3 linked regions of the Homo sapiens genome follow. The protein of the gene in region 2 purifies or fractionates together with the protein of the main gene of each other region. This does not show direct contact. Each region holds a gene or a part of one and is shown on either strand. Other genes may lie near its edges.

Region 1 (3,650 bases), on a different chromosome or scaffold from region 2:
TAAAAGAAAATTTCATATTTACCTTAAGTTTACTTTCCAGAAGTTCAACACTGGTAATCAGATAGGAAGCCTCAGATTCATTTAGCCCATGAACTACTGCTTCTTTGCCAAGTGTGGCATATAAAGTCACAACTACATAATAAAAATAAACACAAATATTAAGTAATAAACATCTATTAGAAATGGATATTATTGAAGTCAGTCTTTAATAATAGTTACACTTAGAGACACAAAGACATTGTATATTTTAATTTGATTTCATAGTCTCTGTTACCATCCTTCAACCTTGCTTCAAACTCCCTGGGAGCCCAAAGTTTTCCTTACAAATTCCCAGAACTCTCACTTCCTAAACCTGAAGAAACCCAGAAACACTCGCACTGCCACAGCTGATCAAAAATCTGTCAATTTAGATGCTCAAGGCCAATAGGTACTGGCTGAACTCTTAATTCAGGTCAGACTGGCCCAGCTAGGGCTTCTTCTTGATACACACTTTCATTGGCCATAGCCTCCAAAGAATGGATAAGTCCTTGAAAATCTTGAGGATCTTAAGTCATAAGATCAGCCACAGATAATGTTCTTACTCCTTCTAAGAAGCTGTTTTAGTGAGTCCAATGTCCAATGTGATTGGTGACCTCCACACCTTAATTAGAGAGATCAAGGAGATCTACTCCTTAGGAGCCACCAGAGATAACATAAACCAAGATCAGTTAGAATCAAAGGACATCTGCTAAACTTAGAAAGAACTGAAAATTCAGCTCTAGATTGGTAACCAGAAACAATGTGGTTAAAAATAGCCACTTTCACAAGCTGTTCATCGTTGAAAGTGGGTAATGGGTACATAGGGGATCATTTTCATATTATCTATTTTTTGTTTGAAATTTAAGCTCTATAATCCTAACTTACAGTGTTATATTTCATTCAACAAACAACAGAGTACTTAGTATGTGACAATACATTGTTTATTTCTTAAACAATGGCAACAACAAATGCTTGAGTATTAGAAATATACTCAATTTTACTTTCTAACATATCTAATGCCAATTCCAGCTGTCACATGCATATTTCACACGTAAAATAGAATAAGTCAAATAAGAGGTCTCAAAGTGAAGCAATGAATTTGAATTATCCTGAGAAATGGTTTTTTGTTCTTTTAATCATTACTCTTTGTATATCACCCCCCCAAAATACCCCCAAACTCCAACTCTTTCAGTTACAATTCATTTCCAATTGGAAAATAAAAGTGTAAATCACATCCCTTAAAGCTGCCAATTCCCATATTAGTTCTTACAAGTTACCATACTTAACAGGAGTCATCGGATATCTTTTAGCCACAATATTACATGCCGTATTATGGACATAATTAATGTGTAAAATGGCTAAACAACACCTACTGTGAAAACAAGAGCATCTCAAAACAATTCTCACATGCAAGCAAAGACCCTCCTCTCCCCCCTCCAAAAACACAAGGCACTTACGAGGAAAGTTGTACTTAAAGCAGGTCTGTGCTGCAATCATCCATTCGGCCCTGGTCTCACAGAAGATGGCAATGGTGTTCTTTGGTTTTAGTCCCAGTGCAGTGAGTCCACTACCAAAGTTATTCACTCTGCGATTCACTTCAAGATAGTTCATCCATTTATAATTCCCAAGAATTAACTGTTAAAGTGATACATTCTCTAATATTAGTATATTCAAACAAGCAATTAAAATACTATCCAAAGCATAAAACTCTAAAAATGCTCTTAAATGAACATACAGAAGCTATGAGCGGCTTCTGAGTAGTTTTACACAGCACTATAATAGAATGCCAGCATACTTAAAACGCACTCGATTTATGATAAAACAAATGTGTCTTCCTCTTTAAAACATAAATGAAAAGCACCAAAATACTTTACCTTCTTAAAAACTTTTCCATTTGGCTGCATTTCATTTTCTTCACTTAGGATTTCCCTGGTCCCAAGGCTGTCCTTCTTCCCAAACTTGGATACAGCATGGTCAAATAATTTATCCAGAGTATCTGCTCCAGGGATGTCTATTACAGCTAGTGAGTCGAAGTGTGTGACAGAGCGATATGGACTTCCAGGTTTGTCTGAAGTGGGCTTAGCTTTTATTCTCTTTGCCATAGCGTTTTTCTTCTTGGCATTGGTAAGAAAATACCATGGAATAAATATAAGGGCACTGTATATTGTTATTAACAAGTGGACAGGCAGCAAAATAATGGTGAGCACATTTAGCTTAAGTTTCATAGTGGAAAGGCTTCTAAAATGGTGCTTATTTCTTGTTATTCTTTGGCTTTTGAAAGCCTTATTGTGCTGAAGAAGGCAATAATAGAAGCAGCAGTAAGAATAGCAGTACAGCCAAGGCAGTTCAATCTTAGTGATACAGATAAAAGTTAGTAATCTTTGGAAGCCGACAATAAAGTACGCCTGTAGGTGATGACAATGAACCAAGCAGAGAGCAGGAAAAATAAAAACAAAAAACAAAAAACAAAAACAAAAGAATATTAACAAGTTGATAGCACAATTGATTTAAATACTCAGGTCTTTATTAGTTTACACAATTAATTACAGAAAGCTGAAATAACTGGTCTGAAAGGCTGGCATTTTCCATTTGTAATCATTATTGACGTAAATGTCTTTGAGCACATCAACTTCTGAATTTATTTTTTTCTAGGTTTCTAGGTGTACTGGTACTCTGCATATCATTCTGTGAGTTGAATAACAACCTTAATGCTTACACAAATGCATGAATATGATATTTAAGTTTGTCAAAACTTTGGTAGAATAGGGTATGCCAATAATAAGATTTCTCTTAAACATGTGCATGTAAACTAGACATCTTTAAATAGTGTTAGGTTTATATCCAAAGGGGGGGGTGGGGCAGAAACTATCAACTTAGATTTATTTCTCAAAGGTCAACCCAGAAACCTTATTCTGAGTTCTTCATTAAGGTAAATTTCTCAGGTAATGCTATTTACTATCTACTATTTCCCACATGGGAGCAATACAATTGTAAAATCATTTCCTACATGTCCACTTTGTGCTCAAAACTGCACCAGTTGCCTAGGAGTGGTAATACAAGTCTGAAGTAGTATTAATTCCTGGCCCTTGGCCATTATAAGTTAACACTTATGAGTCAACTATCACACAAGATAGATCCAGTATTTTTGCAACTGTTTGGGGGAACGGGGACAGGGGGTGCAATTAAACCATCTCTTCTAATAAACACTACTGGAAACTGCCCATATATAACACTAAAGTGGAGTTGCTCTGGCCAAAACAGGGTTTGGGGATGTCCAGAGTCCTGCCCCAGAATTCCCGGAATCCCAACTCCCAAGGTGACCACTAAAGCATTTCCACTGAAAAGCCTTGTGGTAATACATAACTAATACATAACTACCATGTGCAGTGTAGGCAGTAGTATAAGCAATAAATGCAAAAGGAGTTCAGAGGAAGTGCAAAATGGCCAAGAGTAACTAGGAGAGGCTTTGTGGAGATTAGATTTAAGCTGGACCTTATGTTGGGCATCTAGAAATGAAAGAGGAATGGAAGGTATTCCAGGCTCAGGGACCATATGAAAAAAGATACGAAGGTGGGAATGAAAGGACTTTGGGAGAATAGGAAGTACCAATAGCAAGGACACTAGTCTGACTG
Region 2 (3,650 bases):
GCAGAGCAGAAGGTGCAAGTGAACAAAAACATGTTAGATTCTAGGACGTGGAAATTTCTAAATTACATATTCACAGATTTCTCAGCTTCCTGAGATTCTAATGTGCTCCCCTGGGAACATTCTCATCTGCTTCCACCCTTAGTTGGGATCCCCTTTCATTGGTGGGAGTGGGTTAATATTCTTCAAGTTGATTTGGATGGATGGGGAGAAGGGGAGAAGTGGAAAACCTCTAAGGTAACTCCAGAATCTTTTAGCTAATGTAACTTGTGCCAGAAAATGTTTTTTAAGATTCTCTACCCTAAGGGAATGGAGGCGACTTCTCCTTGGTTCTCCTCAAAGCTGCTCTGCTCAGAAGAACCTCAGTAGACCCAGATAGCAGTTAAGGGTGTGAAAGAGGAAACTCAGTTTTGCGCTAACGTGTCTGGTCCATGTTTAATACCCAAGTGGGAGCTATCTGGGCATACTGCAGCTTTGCAAGATTGTTTCCTACTCACTGCATGGCAACATGAGTGTGGAGGCCAAACAGAGCATTTCTGGGTTAAAGAGAGAATCCTAGCAGCTGTGGAGAGCCTAGGCCAATAGAAAAGAAAACATAACCCAAAGAACTGGTATGGAAAGAGCCAGAAGATATCTCCACATGAAGGGCCCTGATCCTTCCCCACCCCCTGGTCCTCAAGGTGATCCTGCAAGGAGAAAGTTTCAGAAGAGAGAGAGCCCACTGCAGGAGATTTGGGTTCAATTCCTTTCATGATTTTAACAAAAACGACCATAAAGATTTATGCAATAGTGACACAGATATGATTAGGTGATTCAGTAGCCTGCAATTTTTTGTATAATTTCTTACACAGGAAACCAAAAAAAAAAAAAAACAAAAAAAAAAAGGAAGAAAGAAAAACTCTTTATATTTTTCAGTACATTCCAAACATAGTCATTAATCTAGTCTTAGGTGACACCTAAATCAAATTGTTTACATTTGTAAAAATACAATAAATCCATTTTAAAAGAAAGGCATTTTATTTACCTTTAGTTGAGAAAAAAGTACAGATACTCTTTAGTGAGGAAAAAAATGATGTTTAAAATCCCTTTTCTGTGTTCTTTTTGAAAGCAATTATTATTTTTTGGTTTCTAGACCTGCATTACTTCTATAAACGAAAGCATGCTCCTTTCAAGTACTATACAAAGAAATTAGGAACTTTTTCTGAATAGGAGGGGCCTGGAGCCCTTCTTATCATTTGTTTTGTGAAGGGAGAGGTATCTAAAACAGAGGTAGCAGAAGCAAGGGGTGAATGTCGAAAACAGCATTAAGAAAATACTTTCAAAATTGGAACTCCAGGTATTAGGGACAGAGCATGGATATACTACCTCCTTGCTTATTCAATTCAATTGAAAATAGCATTATTTCTAAATATCAATAACAACAATGTATGTGGAAGTTTTATTACAATTTAAAGGTAACTTTAGTTATTTGACACACAAACTTACATGAATTACATGATTCACAGAATTCTTATCATCAGTGCCAACAAACAAATTAATAAGGACTTTTTTCCCATATTTAGAATTCAGTTGTGCAATAGCTTTTTCAGCTGTCCAAGAAGCACCTAAAGCAATAAAAGATAAAATATATCTTTAGAAGCTTTAGTTCACTAATGATATTATAACATAGATTTTACATGGAAATTTCTTTTTTAGTAGGAAAATTGCCTTACCATATTTTTGCTCCCAGTTTTCTGTTGCTACTGGCCACCCATATATGTCTGGTAACAGTTTGAGTAGAGGTTCTCCACCTCTGCTATCAATAGCAGCTTTTGGAAACAACAAACATAAATTCAATTAGAAATCTAGGCATAGTTTGGCACCAATATATATATATATATACTCCTAATGAAATCAAATGAAGAGCACTTACATTCATTTATACAAGACCTGTACAATGCTTTTGCTTTCTGCACTGCTACTATATCTTCAGTTTTGGGTTCTTGAAGGACATCTGAAATAGGACATTTAATAAAATGCATCAACATAATTGCTCATTTGCACTATGCAAACATAATTGCTCATTTGCAGTAATTAACATTTGCAAAGTGGGTTCAGTTAAAAAAAAACCTTGCTTTTCTGGAGGTACATTCATTTCCTCCCCCCAGTTCCAAAACATTATAGGAAAAACCAAACCCCTTACCAGATTATCATTCCTAGCACAGAACTGGGAGTCAGTTTAATCAGCCAATTTAGATGAAAGTCCTTTTGACTAGATTATCTTTTTTTTTTTTTTATGAACAGTGATGCATACGGCTCTGCCATAGGTAACAGTTACTTTTCTTGAAATTGAGATTAAAAAAAAACAATAACACAGAGGAATTTGGAATTTAGTATGAATAGTCTTTTTGATGGCTGGAAAATAATTATCTTTGTGTGACTGTACCGTTCATGCTCCAAATGAATGAATTGAATTGTCCTACTTGTTTCAATGTTAAAAAGTAGCAAAAATTGTTCTTCTACAAAATAACTTCTAGAAGAGGGGAGAACAGAGAACAAAGGATAGGAGGGACTTGGCTAGATTTCTTAACTTCTCAGGGAGACAGTCTTAGCCAGGTTAGAATATACCTGTGCTGGGAAGGCAAATCTTAGTAACATCTTACAGTAACTTTAACACAGGGTTTGGGTAGGGAGACTACAGAAGTAGGTTTCTGTGCCAATCATTTAATTTTTTTTCTTCTGTAAAATGGCATAAAACTACCATCTTGGCTGGGCATAGTGGCTCACACCTGTAATCCCAGCACTTTGGGAGGCCAAGGCTGGTGGATCACCTGAGGTCAGTTCAAGACCAGCTTGGCCAACATGGTGAAACCCCGTCCCTACTAAAAATACAAAAATTAGCTGGGTGTAATGGCAGGTGCCTACAATCCCAGCTACTTGGGAGGCTGAGGCAGGAGAATTGCTTAAATCTGGGAGGCAGAAGTTGCAGTGAGCCGAGATAGCACCATTGCACTCCAGCCTGGGTGACAAGAGCAAAACTCCATCTCAAAAAACAAACAAACAAACAAACAAAAAACCAAACCTGCCATCTCTAGAGATGATACCGCTTTATTATTTGCATACCTACAAATGAAAGCAGGAATGCTAAGAGATGTCAACACATTAATTTCAGTGTCTGCCACTATCAGAGTGACTTGGTGGTGGTACACAAATCCTGGAAGGATTATTAACTTTTTAATCTTCTGTGACATTCCTTGTAATGGCTAACAATTGTATATTTAAAAAATGAACATATTAAGAGAGAAATCTTTGATGCACAGACACAATCTCTACTAACCTTTCAAAACGACTTCTAGTTCATCTCTTAAAATGTCAAAGTTGCCGTAACGGGAGCTGGTCTCGGGAATGACATTACGTTTCAACCAGCCTCCGCAAGCATATTTGAAAAAGTCTGTACAAGGCTCAGTGGTGGCATCCATGTTTTGGATCAGTCGAGCAGCTGCAAGAGCAGAGAAAACACTAGATAAAATGATGGGTTTATTTCTTAAGAGGCTTAAAAGGAGAAAAAGGCTTATTGCTCCCTTTTGATTGCATCAATTTGTCGGATGCTCCGTTTTCTTTTTTATATAAGTCAATTCAGGGGGATGAGGAATACTATCTGTGTATAGTTCTCT
Region 3 (3,750 bases), on a different chromosome or scaffold from region 2:
AAGCTAGGCTGTCACAAGTCTCCAAAGAATAACCTTCTACAAACATAAAGGCAGTAAAGATGCTAATGACAGGTTTCAAAACTGCCCCTGAATAAAACACACCCGGTTTTCCACAGCCTGAAATCTAAAAAAGACTGATTGCTCTCCCAGTCTCCTCTTCCTCCTCCTCCATGATTTTATAGCTTTAGAACATCTCTCCACACAGGCTGAATACAGACAGTCTCACTCTTGGTCCTCACCCAGATTATTTTTATGTATCTGGCAACTTGCCTTTTCAATCCCATTTGTTTTCCTTAGCACCGCTAATGGGTGGAAGTCGATGAGGTAAAGAAATCAGCTTCCTAAGCACCCTTGGACTATGACCATAGGAGACAGAATGACAGTAATAGGATGGAGAGGTTTGCAAAAAAAGAAATACCCTCTCACCATAGTGATCACCAGCCCAAAGTACACATGTCAGCCTGGGGACCTGCTTCAGAACTCATTTAGTAGGAGCTTGGTGCTGCTCCAATGCCTCAAAATGCAAAGGCAGACCTCACTCTAAGAGCATACACTCCCAAATGAAAGAGTCATTAAGAGAAACCTGTAAAAGTATTTCCCCAAAGTACCACAGTGTAGATGAGAAAGTTTATGCGACCACCTCCAGGAAAGAGTGTCACCAGGCCCCTGGGAAATTAACTACCACAGAAGGCAAGGGAGCTGGGTCATGGTCCACTGATGTGATTCAGAAAGGGCACCTGGCTGGGGCTGGAATTCCTGCTTGTGAAAGCCCAGGGCACGGCAGGGTTGGGCTGGGCTGGAAGGGAGGGGCAGCCAGGGTGAGTGCCAGTCGTTCCTAGGGTTCAGGCACAAGGTTCCTCACCTCCACTGTGGGGCTGACGCACTGTGCAAAGGTGAAAGAAAGCCAAACCTGAAATCGGCACAAAGGCAGCCACTCGTTGGAAAATCATTTTTAAAGGTCCCCCTGCCCGCCGGGATGAGGTGCTGTACACTATGGAGTGTCCTGAGCACATAAATGACTCTTATCACTTAGGATGCCCAGGAAAAAGTCAACAGACTCACATGCATCATGGTGACCAGGTGACAGGGGTTGAGCAGGTAGATGACGGTCTTGGTGGCGAACTTAAAGCCCACCTCCACCCCGAAGGTCAGGCACAGGGCTACTAAGAGCAGATTCTTGCTCAGGCTCTCCTTGCCTTCCTCTGGCCGCTGGGTCACCTGCTCTGGCTGGCTGCCAGGGCTACCCCTACCGTCCTCCTTCGTCTGCCTCAGGATGTGCCGCAGGGCCACCAGGATCTCCAACAGAGCCAGGGTCAGGACCACCACACTTTCCAGCAGCCGCTGCTGCCAAGAGAGGAAGGCAGCACAGTCGGGGCCCCCATTGCCTGCAAAACTGGGGTCCACGCCCCCATAGAGCCAGTCCAGGAGACTCTGGTAGCTATACCGGGACATGATGCAGTGGTTCCCCTTGACCACAGTACAGGAAGCAAGAGTGAGATGGAACACAAGCCCAGAGGGTTGCCCGGGTGGTGGACCATGTAAGGCGGGCACACCCCCACAACCCCCCTCCAGACACCAGGGCACCGAGAGTAGGGGAGGGGAAGCTACACGCAAGGCCCGGGGTAAAGTGCTGGCTCTAACTTGTCCCCACGGCTGTCTGGGGGAGCCCCCCGCGCTTCTCCAGTGGCCACCAACGAGGCAGGGTTGAAAGGAGCCGTTGGCCAATCTAAAAGGAAGGAGAGGAAAAAAAAAAAAAAGAGGTCTCAAAGAGGCAATTGCACCGGGAATTAGGAAGCGGGAGGGGTAACTAGCGAGGGAAGAAAACGGGAACGGGGCAGTGGCGAAGCAAGCAGGGGTCAGGGGAAGCCGGAGGCCGAAAGGGTCAGGGCGGGGGCCAAGGAGACCCGGCAGTGCTGCGGCAGCGAACCGGGAGCCAAAAGGGGTCAGAGCTAGGGGACACGCGGAGGCAAGGAGAGGAGCTAGCGGGGCCGAGCAGGCGGGGAGGGCGACGGGGATGGCAGGGACGCCGGACTCCTCGTCTCACGCACTCGCCACAGAGGGATCTCTTACTCCTGCAACCGCGTGGCCGTCTCTGCCCCCAGCTAGCAACTTCGCCGCCGACGGGCCCCTCCAGCCAATTTAGAGCCGTCCTTGTCCAGCCTCCCGCCCCCGGGTACACCCCCGAACCCCCAGCTCCACCCTCCGGCCCTAGACGCCCGCCCTCCGGGCAGCACCACCCCCAGCCCGCGGCCCGCCCGGGACCTGCCCCCCTCGCGCAGGCAGCGGAGGGAGGAAGCCAGAGGGAAGGCGGGAGGCCGGGCCAGCCGGGGGCTGGACTAAAGCCGGCCCCTGGACTAAAGCCGGCCCCCCTCCCTCCTCCCCGGCGCCGCAACCTCCCGCGCCTCCCGCCCAGCCCCGGGGACCGGCCGCCGCGCCCCTCGGGGCTTCACTCACCGGCAGCTCGGCCCGCGGCCCCGGATCGGGCTACTGCTCCGCTCCCGCGCTCTCCGCGCCGGGCGCTCGGTTCCCCTGGCGGCCGCCGCCGCGGCGCACGGCTCCTCCTCCCCGTCTTCCTCCCCCTGCAGCAGCCGCGCTCGCTTCCTCCTTCTTCCCCTCCCTCTCTCCTCCCCCTCCCCGCTGCCACCGCCACTGCCTCCCTCCTCCCGTCCAGTTCAGCTCTCGCCCCACCACACGCCCTCGGGCCACGACTACTCCTCCTCGCCTCCTTCCCTTTTCTGCCTCTGGCACTCCCCTCACCCGTCCACCATTCACACCTCCCACCCTCCGCGGCTTCGGCTCTCCCTCCTCCTCCTCCCTCCTCCTCCCTCCTCCGGCTCAGGCTCCGCCTCCTTCCGCCTCCTCCCTGGCCTGCCTCGTCTTCTGCACTCGGAGCCTGCACGCGTGCACAGCCACCCTCCTTCACAACCGTGTACAGAATTCGCCCCCTCGGTGAAGCCCTGTTGACTGGCTCCGCCTCCCGCGACCTGGTTCTCCAGGGCACTTCTTTCTATACTGCACACATAGTAGGCACTTAGCTGGCCCGCACTAACTTCTTGTGGGGGAATAAGCCTTTCTAGTAATGAGCAGCTTGGCTTCGGGGTGTGTGCTGGGTATGGCCGGCTCCTCTTCGCGATTCCTCCTTTCTGCCACGACTCATGCAAGGCCAGAAAGGCATCTTCTCTCCCCTTTCTAGCCACAGCCCCACTCCACACTTCAGTGCCTAGGACAGGAGCTTCATTTCCCTGCTCCTCCCCCTCCTGCTCTGATCCACTATTTTCTCTCTACCTCTTGCCACACAGACCACCCCTGCCACACCCTCTCCCTCTCCCACTTCTCTCCTTTCTCCTGACAGGCCTTCAATGGTAGGCCAGTGGGAGGAAGGGAGGCTTCCCGTGACCTCTTTCCCTCCCCCTCTTCCCCCCTTCCCCCTCCCCAGAGCAGTTGCTTCCTAACCTATGCGTGGAAAAGCCAGCCAGGACTATATGAGTGTGGAGGAGCAGCACTAAGCCCAAAACCTGGATAAGGGCAACTGACGGAAATAAAATCCCCTCTTCCTACCTGCTGCTTTTTACCGATCGGCTATTTGCTTTTCTTGAGACAAGGGTCAGTAAAAGGACCTTCTCAGGACCTTCCTCATGTTTATTTAATATTTATTGAAGACTCACGATGAGTTAGAAGAATATCCAGAAAAACACAGTTAGGCACCTTGCCTAGGAAACACTTTTGGATGTTGGCTGCAAGCCAGGCTCA

Evidence for each region.
Region 1: the proteins of MME (region 2) and ACSL4 purify together in Homo sapiens (affinity purification with mass spectrometry; 2 studies listed by BioGRID and IntAct, with this or other methods). This does not show direct contact.
Region 3: the proteins of MME (region 2) and TMEM164 purify together in Homo sapiens (affinity purification with mass spectrometry; one large-scale study listed by BioGRID and IntAct). This does not show direct contact.

Annotation. Positions count from the first base shown.
Region 1 is NC_000023.11:109,681,244-109,684,893, forward strand, and holds part of ACSL4 (long-chain-fatty-acid--CoA ligase 4), read right to left. Parts: intron 2,424-3,650; exon of another isoform or gene 2,244-2,423; coding exon of another isoform or gene 2,121-2,243; coding exon 1,893-2,120; intron 1,654-1,892; coding exon 1,476-1,653; intron 133-1,475; coding exon 23-132; intron 1-22. UniProt on the Homo sapiens protein: Catalyzes the conversion of long-chain fatty acids to their active form acyl-CoA for both synthesis of cellular lipids, and degradation via beta-oxidation. Preferentially activates arachidonate and eicosapentaenoate as substrates.
Region 2 is NC_000003.12:155,114,819-155,118,468, reverse strand, and holds part of MME (neprilysin), read right to left. Parts: intron 3,476-3,650; coding exon 3,314-3,475; intron 1,991-3,313; coding exon 1,910-1,990; intron 1,806-1,909; coding exon 1,710-1,805; intron 1,602-1,709; coding exon 1,483-1,601; intron 1-1,482. UniProt on the Homo sapiens protein: Thermolysin-like specificity, but is almost confined on acting on polypeptides of up to 30 amino acids. Biologically important in the destruction of opioid peptides such as Met- and Leu-enkephalins by cleavage of a Gly-Phe bond.
Region 3 is NC_000023.11:110,001,477-110,005,226, reverse strand, and holds the start of TMEM164 (transmembrane protein 164), read right to left. Parts: upstream 2,114-3,750; 5' UTR 2,049-2,113; intron 1,727-2,048; 5' UTR 1,453-1,726; coding exon 1,063-1,452; intron 1-1,062.